Linked DNA regions of Homo sapiens: region 2 is linked to region 1. Evidence: fine-mapped expression QTL. A gene starts in region 1. The other region holds a variant in brackets. All regions are shown on one strand. Distances are from middle to middle. Region 1 holds the start of AFDN (afadin, adherens junction formation factor). Region 2 has its middle 11 kb from the start of LINC02487.

The links. PIP is the estimated chance that this variant, and not a neighbour inherited with it, causes the effect.
Region 2: its variant is fine-mapped to the expression of AFDN in whole blood (TOPMed, PIP above 0.99).

Annotation. Positions count from the first base shown.
Region 1 is chr6:167,824,149-167,829,520 of GRCh38, forward strand. AFDN (afadin, adherens junction formation factor) reads left to right here and starts at 2,763. Exons shown (of 34, transcript NM_001386888.1): 1 at 2,763-3,089. The coding sequence starts at 2,985. AFDN-DT (AFDN divergent transcript) reads right to left here and starts at 2,648. Exons shown (of 2, transcript NR_027906.1): 1 at 1,255-2,648; 2 at 1-658. RefSeq lists silencers at 1,732-1,801, 2,716-2,915 and enhancers at 2,386-2,455, 2,486-2,565.
Region 2 is chr6:167,704,310-167,709,681 of GRCh38, forward strand. No RefSeq gene overlaps it. Among named protein-coding and RNA genes, the nearest start is that of LINC02487, 11 kb to the left of the region's middle. RefSeq lists enhancers at 3,313-4,034, 4,035-4,755. The variant G/A (reference allele first, on the strand shown) is at 1,977.

The DNA.
Region 1 (5,372 bases):
TAACATATGGCTCAGAATATCATCCTGGAGTCTTGACCGATGACAGCGAAATTATTTGTCAGCCTGGAAATTTTCATGTCCTAAACATATACCAGTTATGGGAGTGTTCATGATTTAAGAATCATAGGTATTCTATGAATTTTTGGCTGCTCTTAAACATTTGTCAATAAACTAATGTTGGTTGGGACCTACAATAAAGTGTAGTTTAGATATTGATATACCACTCATACATAATACAAATGGGGACTTTTAATGACAGTCAGAAAAACGAGAATGATTCACATTAATTTCGAGCCTTCTATGTGTCCTGCATCACCCAGTAGGTATTTCACATATGCTATATGTTTTTTATTACAAAAATAACACTGCAGAGAGCCCATAACTGTTTTCCAGGAATCCTGAATTTTCTCTTTAGTGATGCTACACATACTTACTTTGGACATCAGCAATCTAACTGCCGGCTTTGCAAACTCATTCTTCAAGAGGCAAGTCATTCTTGGTAACAGCGTCCTCAGGAATGAAGCTCCTGCAGTTGAGGTTCAGTGAACGCTGCGTCAGGGATCTGCGCAGCACGTGTGGAACCCAATGAGAGTCCTTGCTGTGCAGGCACCGGGATGCTCACATAGTAAAAACTCGAGTCCATCGGGAAGCCCAGGAACTGAAAGGCATAAAGAAACCGAGTGCTAGAACACGAAGATGACATTTAGACACAGATGCTTTTCTGCAAGTCACCACACTTTAATTTTAAGAAAGGAGACTAGCGATCTATTGAATAATTCATTCCCTCATGGCACTGGTTCAACACCCCAGGCTCCTCTGCTGAGAAGCCTCCTTATGTAGCTGTACTGGACAAGTGCGGTAGAAAAGACAGAACCCAGTGGGGATGACAGAATTCTTTAATTGTCTGCAAAAGAGGAAATCCAGTTGGTGGAGAGAAAAATTATTTCCACATTGGAAAAAAAAGTAATGACAAAAATAAAAAGGCTTTGTCAAATATAGTTCACTCTTCTCATTACTTGCCTTAGTGTTTCAAAGATAAACGCTTTTTGTTACAACACATCACAGATAACGCAACTTCGCCTGACTGAACCCGGCGTGGGGAGACTGCAGAGATGGCGCTCTGCAGCCAAAACAAAGGGTGGGGGAGGGGAGGGGCAATTACAAAAAAGACACCTTATGAAAAAAAATCCCTACAATTCACAAAGCTTGCTACTGAAATTAATTTCAGGTTTCCACGTCCACGGGGACACGTACAGGATTTAAAATGACGATCACGTGGCATCTCTCAGGGCCAAATGGGGCGCATCAAAGCTTCCCCTCGACGTTTATTAACTCTGCAGTCCGTTCTCTACGTCTGCGAAGAATTGGCAGATAACGATGTGTCTGAGAGAAGAGGCGTTTTCTAAGGAGACACACAAAGGGAGTGGGACCCTCCAACCTCACTCTGTGAGAGGAACACCGCACAGCAGTGTGGGGGCTCGAACACCCCAAGAGCGGCAGAGCGCGGTTCAGAAAACATGACCCTTGAAATGCACACAAAGCCTAACAACGTGTCCTCCGCGGAAGAAAACAGCTTGAAAAGGTCGGCTTTGAAGTGACCCAGCGGAAAGGAATCACCCTGGAAGAAACACGCAGCAGCCCCGGGGCAATGCGCGGGCAGGAGGAGCAGCGAGCGCGGGGAGCGCAGGGCCCTTCGGAGAGGGCGCTCCACCGGCCCTGCGCTCCGTACCTGTGCCGCCACGCCCACCGGTCCCCTGCTGAGCCTAGCACCGCCCATTTAGACCCAGCACCACCCGTCCGGACCGAACCTAGCACCGCCCGTCCGGACCCAGCAGCGCCCATTTGGATACTGCACCGCCCGTCCAGACCCAGAACCGCCCGTCCGGACCCAGTACCACCCATCGGACCCAGCGCCGCCCATTTAGACCCAGCACCGCCAGTCCGAACCGAACCTAGCACCGCCCATGGGACCCATCGCCCGTTCGGACCCAGCACCGCCCGTCCAGATCCAGCACTGCACCCCCATTTGGATCCAGCACCGCCCGTCCAGACCCGGACCCGCCAGTCCGGACCGAACCCAGCACCGCCCATCGGATCCGGCGCCGCCCATTTAGACCTAGCACCACCCATCCGAACCGAACCTAGCACCGCCCATCGGACCCACCGCCCGTCTGGACCCAGCACCGCCCGTCTGGAACCAGCACCGCCCGTCCACAGATCCATCACCACCCATTTGGACCCAGCACCGCCCGTCCCCGCCCGTCCGGACCGAACGCAGCACCGCCCATCGGACCCAGCAGCGCCCATTTAGACCTAGCACCGCCCGTCCGAACCGAACATAGCACCGCCCATCGGACCCATCACCGCCCGTCCAGATCCAGCACCGCCCATTTGGATCCAGCACCGCCCGTCCGGACTCTGCACCGCGCGTCCGGACCCAACACAGCACCACCCATCGGACCCAGCACTGCCCATTTAGATCCAGCAGCGCGCGTCCGAACCGAACCTAGCACCGCTGGTCGGGAAGGAACCCGGTACCGCCGGTTGGGACCCACCACCGCCAGTCCAGACGGAACCCTAGCACCGCGCGGGGCCCGCCCTCCGACACCTCCCTCCCTGGCGGCCGCGGCAGCAGCACCTAGTGGAGCGGCCCGGAGGTGCGGCGGCGCCGCGCGGGGCGGCGGCGCGCACGGCGGGCGGCGGCGCGCACGGCGGCGGGCGGGGCGCGGGCGGGTGCGGGCGGCGGGCGGCGGGCGCCGGGCGCACACCGGCCGGCGGGGCTGAGGCGGCGCGGCGCGGCGCGGACTGAGCCCCAGGCGGAGGCCAAGTCGGAGGACGCGGCGCGGCCGCGGAGGCGGAGGCAGCCGCGGAGGCGGAGGCGGCCGGCGGGGGGTGGCGAGGGGCGCCGGGCCCCCGCGGACCTGTCGTCCTCGGCCCGTCCTCCGGCCCCGGCCCCGCGCGGCTGAGGAGGCGCGGCCAGGACCATGTCGGCGGGCGGCCGTGACGAGGAGCGGCGGAAGCTGGCCGACATCATCCACCACTGGAACGCCAACCGGCTGGACCTGTTCGAGATCAGCCAGCCGACCGAGGTGAGCACCGCCGGGCGCGGGGCCTGCGCGACCCCCGCCCGCTGCGCCGCGCCCCGCCCCTCCCCCCCGCCGCCGCCCGCCAGCCGCGGACCCGCCCTCCTTTCCCCCTCCCCCCTCCGCCCCTTCTCTCCCCTCCCCCTCCCCCAGGCCCACCGCGGGCCCCGGCGTCCCCCGCAGCCCCCGTCCCCCTGCCGCGGTGTATCCCGGGGTCGCGCGGGCCGAGCGGGGGCTGGCGGGGCGCGGCAGTCACCTGTTCCCCTCTCCGGCCGCTCACCTGGTGGCTCACCTGGGCCGCCGCCCCCACCCCCGCGAGCGCGGCGCGGCCCCGGCCTCATCCCCGGCGGCGCGGGGGGCGCGGCGGCGCGCGGGGCCGGCGCCCTCCACCTGCAGCCCGGTTGTGGCTCGCGGCGCCCCTTCGCCGTGGCCGGGATGGAGCCTGTGACGCGCGCTGTGCTTCGGGTTCATAAACTTGCAGGCTGCCAGCTGGGAGGGGAAAGTCAGTATCACAAAGTTCGGGAGGTGCGGGCTGCCTGATGGCACAGGCCCGGAGTCGGACGCCTCCGAGGAAAGGCGCGCCTTCTCCACCTTCGGGGCCGCGAGGAAGGGCCCTCTGCGGCGGCCTCTGCCCGGAGGGAGGCGCCGGCCCCAGGCTGGCTCCCTGAGAGGAGGAGGAAATCACGCTCGCTCCTGGCCTGGTAACAATGGGGGTTGTTTATAGCAAAGCTGCTGAAAGCGTTCCGAGCAGCTTTTAAAAAAATGTTTGAGTCCAAGTCCACTAGGAAGGGCTCCGTGGAGAGGGGAGGGAGGTGAAGGGTCGGGGAGCAACCCTGTAAATCGCTCCGCAAGGGTCGGTTCCGCGCTCTGTTCATTCGGTGGCTGCACAGACTTTACCAGCATAAAAAAATTTCACTCAATATTTGTGCCCGTTTAGGAAATCATTTTAATAGCGTCTATTTTTGATTTGTTGTAATAGGTAATTTATAGTTAATACTTGCTATAAAATACTAGCTCCTAGGCAACAAAACATGTTTGGCAGATTTGAACATTCTTACGAAATGTAATCCTTTTATCATTAAATTCCACTTTATGTTTTTGAGAGAATTTGACTATTGCTTCTCTGATTTCTTGAGTTTTTGCCAGTCATGGGAAGGACTCTATTTCTTCTGTTTTCATCTGTACCTGTGACTGCACTTGACGTGGGTAGCTAGCCATTTGTCTTAATACTGAGTTGAATACTGACACACGCCATTAGGCTCAGGTTGTCAATTTGAGCATAGATGTTATGTTAAGTTACTCCTGATTCATTCATCTTCTGTAATGATTTTATGAGTTAGGTTCTAGTAAGGGAGTTAGTACTATGTACTTAAGTGTTCGTTCATAGACTAGTGTATCTTTAGAAAGGTGACATGATAATTTAGTTTCAGGATTATGTTTTCTTTTAGAATAATGAATTCATTTTTCTTTTTATCACAAGGTAAAAAAAGTTGACCATAAAACATTTTCTTGGTGTGTAGCTTTTTTTTTTTGTTTGAATGGATTTTTTTTTTTTTTGAGAGATTTCTCAAGTCTGGTGGAAAGGAATCTTTTTTCGGTTTAATAAAGAGAATTCAGCTTTTTGGGATTTTGAATTGAGTTAGCATTAAAAAAATCTCAAATCAGAAACATTATAGTTCATTGATTTAATTAAATTCTATTTTAAGCACTCAATTGAAACTTTTTATTTCTTAGTGATATGACTAGTTTTTAAAATTGGCCTGTCATTTGGAAAGCTGTTTTTTCAGTTATACTGTAGGTGAAAGTTTGCTTTGTACATACACTGAAGCAAAACAAGAATTGAAGGACTTGGAAAAAAAGATGATATATTTCATTTCCTAATTTTTCTCCCTACTTATATCTGAACATTTCCATTTTTAGAAATTATTCTTCAGAATTGTATTAGAAGCCTTTCATAATGAAATGAATGGTTTTTAAGAATGTCCATATATTGGTTTTTTAGCTTTTTTACTATATAGTGGCTGGCTCACATTTCTATTTTGTTTTCTCGAGAACTTTCCTGTACTATTAAATTTATTCTGGTCCTAGTTAAGCTTTGCATTTAACATATTGTATCTTTTATTATGATGTAGGTAAACTTAATATGAGTAATTCTCTCAGCCAGTATTTCAAGGCCAACAGTTTCAATTTGCTTTGTCTAAGCTCGTGTGAATTTTTTTTTTTAACCATCTAATGATTATTTTTACTCTATTTGGCCATCACAAGTCCAATTTTTTAGTTTTCTGCAAG
Region 2 (5,372 bases), 120 kb before region 1:
TCTGGAGAGACACCTCCCAGTTCCGGAGCAACTCCTCCCAGTTCTGGAGAGACTCCTCCCAGTTCCGGAGAGACTCCTCCCAGTTCCGGAGAGACTCCTCCCAGTTCCGGAGAGACTCCTCCCAGCTCCGGAGAGACTCCTCCCAGTTCCGGAGAGACTCCTCCCAGTTCTGGAGAGACTCCTCCTCATTCCAGAGAGACTCCTCCCAGCTCCGGAGAGACTCCTCCCAGCTCCAGAGAGACTCCTCCCAGCTCCGGAGAGACACCTCCCAGTTCCAGAGAGACTCCTCCCAGCTCCAGGAACGTGTCTGAACGTGGTTGGCTTGTTTTCCTCTGGCCACTGCCAGGACCCTGGGCGAAGGTTTGGCCAGCAGTGGAAGACATAGCACAGTGGCCCCAGCAGACTCCACGGTCAGCACAGAGCTCCTGCCCGGGGTCAGCCTGAGGCCCACCCTCCTCTGGCAGCTGTCGCTGGACCTGCTGCTTCAGACCACTGTACTCCAAGCTCCTGGTTTTACTGCCAAATGTGCAGCACCAAGACAGCTTGAAATACTCTTTCACTGGTCTTGATGAGAATTCACCCTTCTTGAAGTGAATTCCTTCTCTTTCTTTTCACGTGGTAGGTCCAATGTCTCCTCCTCAGAGTGGCCTTCTCTGAATCCTCTTTATTTCTGTCCCTCACAGGGAAAGCCCTGTTTATTTTGTGTCTCCACCACCCATACAGAGAAGAAAGGTCTTGAGAGGGGTGTTTGGTAGGGCCTCTCTGACCACAGCATCCTCAGAGCCCCTGAACTAGAGCTGGCCCAGGAAGGACCAAACCAGAAATCTACTTTTTCTTCTTTGTTATTTCTTTATTTAATATTAATTGCAAACAAATTTGTAATTACAAGCATGCTAAAAAATCTTTTATTAAGAGGCACATACACACTTTGCAGCTTCCAGGTGTCTGAGTTTATTGGTTACATTTTTCAAAAGGCCATCACACGACCCTGGAGAGAAGCCCCCAGCTGCCGAGCAGCAGTAGGAGGAGGGCGAGGCCACAGGACGGCACGCGGGAGGCGCCAGCCGCAGAGAACACGCACAAGCCTGACGGCTGGAGCAGCACCACGTGCATTTCCTTAAAGAACGGAGGTGCAGATCCGGGCAGGGCGAGCTCAGGGTTGGTTAGTTCAGGAGCTCTGCGCGTCTCAGGCAGCCAGGACCCTGGGTCGAGAGAGGCTGCGATGGTCCCACCGTCACATTCAGATCTGACCATGGCCAGTGGAAGAGGAAGAGATGTGTCCTCTTGGGCTGTTTTCTCAGGGACTAGCAAACTTTGCTCGGGCCCTGTCCACCCACGTTCCCACAAATATCAATGCCAGAATTGGGCCACACAAGCCTCCCGTGCTGGTGCCTGCGGCTGGCGGAGACAGACACGCACCACAGCAGGTGAGCACCATGCGACTGGAGTTAAAATGAAAACACCTTTCTTCTAGAAGCATGAAGGAAACATTTCAAATGATGACGCTTTGTGCTGCTGATGGTGAGTGAAACAGAACTCTCCATCCATGGGATGTGGGCACACGACCCAGCCCCAGCTTCCTAGAAGGCAGCGGGATGGGTACAGGACGGGGACGCTGCCACCTGCCTTTGGCCCAGGACTCCCATCTCTAAGAATACATCTTAAGGAAAGAAGTAAAGTGCATATGAGCAAAAATATTATGTACTGATATGTTCATTGCATTAATATTTTAAAAATTCAAATATCCAAAATTGGAATGCTTATACAAATTTTGAACTATACAAATAACCCAATATTTACATGCTATTACACTGATATTTAAGAAGAGTGTTCATTAAAATGAAAAACAAACTTTTACCATTAAATGAAAAAAATTACATACCGTATAATGTCTACACTTGAAAAAGGAGTATATAGAAAAATAAAGGCACCCCTGCCAAGTGTTAATAATAGTTTTCTCTGCAGGGTAGGCTTCC[G/A]GGTGATTTTCTGTATTTACACATTTTTAGCCCTCTAAATATTCTATAGTGAGGGCGTCTGTAGTTGCTATTGTTTCCATTATCAGTTATCTATTGCCACAGTGGTAACCACAAGAAACAACCACAAACCTCTGTGCACGTAACCACCACCACTGGCGCCTGCTCACCGTCGAGGTGGTGTTGGGGCAGGGCTGCTCTCTGAGCTGGGGCGGAGGAGAATGAATGCATCTGCTCAGCCGGCTCGGCTGGGTGGCTTCACCTAGCTTTGCCGAGCCCCCTCCCACGCCAGCTGGGCCCCGCAGAGACTCTCAGGGCCCCAGGCAGATGCTCGTGACAGTACAGGGCTTCGTGGGAACTGCAAGAGCTCACGGCGTCTTAGGCCTCGGCTGGGCAAGGCCCCCTTCCTACCGGCCAAAGCAAGTCAGAGGCTGCGCGGCCTCCAAGGGTGGGAAAGGAGCCCCTGTTGATGAGAGGAGCTGCGGTTCGTTGCAGCGACGGGACAGCAGGATGAGGACCTACAGCCAGCTTTACTTCAGTCCACGATTGAGACCCGGCTGCTGTTCTCAACAGCTGTTCCCACCATAGCCTGAAAACCCAGATATTTGCTGCCTCAGTTTCCATGGCCAGTATGGTAGTCACGTGGCCAGCTCTGGCCAATGAGACCAAGGGTAAGTCCAGAGGGGTGAGATTCTGGGAATCACTCTTCCTTCATGATTTAAAAAAACAACAACAAAGGAAGAAAAGAGGGAGAGGAAGAAGCTCACAAGACACCCCCAGCCCCACCACAGAAGCCTCCCTGCACCCGGCCTTCCCATGTGGCCCCGTGAGGGAGGCCATAAGGCCCAGATGCAGGTGTGAACACACACCTGAAGAAGCCAGGAGAACAGCCCCGATGTGTCTCCTCCAGGGTTTCAGGGAAGAAATCAATGCCCACAGTTGAAGCCACGGTGAGCATGCCTCAGTGACTGGATTCCCGGTGCCTCTCCAGACATAGCACAGCCCGCATGTCCATCCAGGAAAGGCGTAACTAAAGAAGAAAGCATTTAAGCAAGAAACAGATAAGTCAAAAGTCTTACAAAAATGAGAAGGCTCTAAATGATTACAGCATAACACAGAAGCTGCTTGGCAGTTTAGAATTTCACTCCCAGACAAAACTATAGTCAACTGAAGGGTATGACCTGGCTGACATGTTGTCCTGACTATTTCATGCTCTAAGTTTGCAGAAAGTGACTGTACATCACCCAGACATCTTACACAGCCCCTGGTCTGTGGAGTTTCCCGTGAAGACACAGGTGGCCTGGCATCAGGGACACACCAAGAAAGTCGGCAGCAGGGAAGGGGGCTTCGTGTCTTTCTCTCACAGGAAAAAAGGAGCAAAACAACTGTCTGAAACTGAAATGAACACGGTGCCTTAAGGTCACTTTATTGTCAAGCAGAAAATGGTCTCAAGAATTGCAAAGGGAAAGGAAGGTAGGATTTGCTGAGCGGAGTATCACATCAAGAAACCCAGTCATCCGGGGAAAGTCGGCACTTCCCGAATTCCCGCGTAATCAGTCACTGAAGAGACGGCATGATGAGCGAACTCTGGTCTATCCGAGGCCTGGGAAGCTGGCTCAGAAGCAGCAGCTGGAGAAACACACGTATGACAGCTGTGGCATTTTGCTAAATATGTTGTCACGATGCCCCATGGCTACAAGGAAAGAGCTTAGCATGTGATGGGGAGGGTGGAAGACACCCCACAGTGCTCAGGGGGGAGGCTGAGCCTCTGCAGCCAGGTAGACCTCTTGACGGTGCAGGGCCAAGCCTCAGCTGCTTACGTCCAGACAAAGCAGGGGGAGGGTGCCTGTGTTGGCCTTGGCCAAATGAGCATGTTTTATCTGAAACAGAATCCATAGGGTGGAGTTGCTTGACACTGGCCTCCTTCCTGAATACCCTCCAGGCGAGAGGCTGCATCTGGGCTGGTCCAGGGCCGCTGGACACCCACAGTGAGCCCAGCGAGGCAGCAGGAGCGCCAGTAGGACTCAGCGTCGATCTCCCGGATTCAGAGATGACCAAGAATCGTGAAACATCTACGTATTCACCAAGGACGCAAACAAGGCTGCAGCCATCTCAAGGAAGCTCCTGGAAATCTTCCTGCAGCCTAGAAAAATGTTACCTGAAGCACTGCAGGAAGATCCTGGGGCCAAGACAGGATTCCCGCTCCACTGAGACCCCAGCCCTGCAGGCTCCCATCCACACCCGCCCTAGGCTGCCCTGGACCCATGGCGGGCCCAGGCACACCCCACAGCCGCAGGCACCCCACAGCACGGCGCCGCATCCAGGGAGTGCCTTCCTAGGCCAACATCCTTGGGTGACACCTGTTGAATTTCGTTTTGATGATTCTTTCCTTTCAGGGTAATAACTTCTACACCTTTTTCTTGGCGTGTTTCTGTAGCCCAGGTCCAGGAATAGATTAAGCACGAGAGCGTGTGGCACCTGCTCAGCAGCCTGTGTATAGCTTATGCTTTCTCTACTGTCCCACAGGAACCGTGTGCACCTCTGCAGGATGCAGACCCACAGGGGTGGGGACAGCAGGAAGAGCAAGAGAGGCACAGAAGGGAAGGCCAGTGGAGGCCCTCCAAGCCGTCCCAAGGCAGTCTCCATTGTCGCATTCAGGCTGGGAAGGGAGGGACAGTGGACAAGGAAGGGGTCCTGGGAATAGCAGCCAACAGGGGAGGAAGGAAAGGATGCAAAACTTCCAACAGAGCTGCTCAGTAGGGGAAAGACGTCTTTCCTCACCCATCCTAGGTTCACGGCTGAAGCTTCTATCACAACAGACAGATGGACAAAGGAAAGTGCACATTTTACTTCATCTAAGTTTTATGTGACACAAGAGCCTTCATAAGGAAATGCCAACCCGAAGAAACAGGCGAGCCTGAGTGTGTTTCACAGGGGGTTTGGTGAAAATGGGGCGGTGGAAGGAAAGAACAGAAGGAAGCAGCATGATCTACTGGCAGCAAAGCGGGGGGACCTGGCAGGCCTGTGTGGCCCTTCAGCTCCCGAGCTAAGGACACTCCACTCCACATGATGGGGTGGCCACTTCTCACAGGCGGGGCTCCTAGACCAGCTTCCCGGGAGGGCCAGAGAGTCCTGCCTGACTTTTATGACCCAAGTCAGGAGAGGAGGAAGGAAGGTGAGTGTGGCTTCCTGCTTCTGCACTTTTCTCAAATAGCTTCAGCTGAAAGTATCGGGGGGTGAACCTCATCACCCATCACACCTCGCAGCCTATGAACCAGCCTGGCATCACCCATCACACCCCACAGCCTGTGAACCAGCCTGGCATCACCCATCACACCCCACAGCCTGTGAACTAGCCTGGCATCACCCATCACACCCCACAGCCTGTGAACCAGCCTG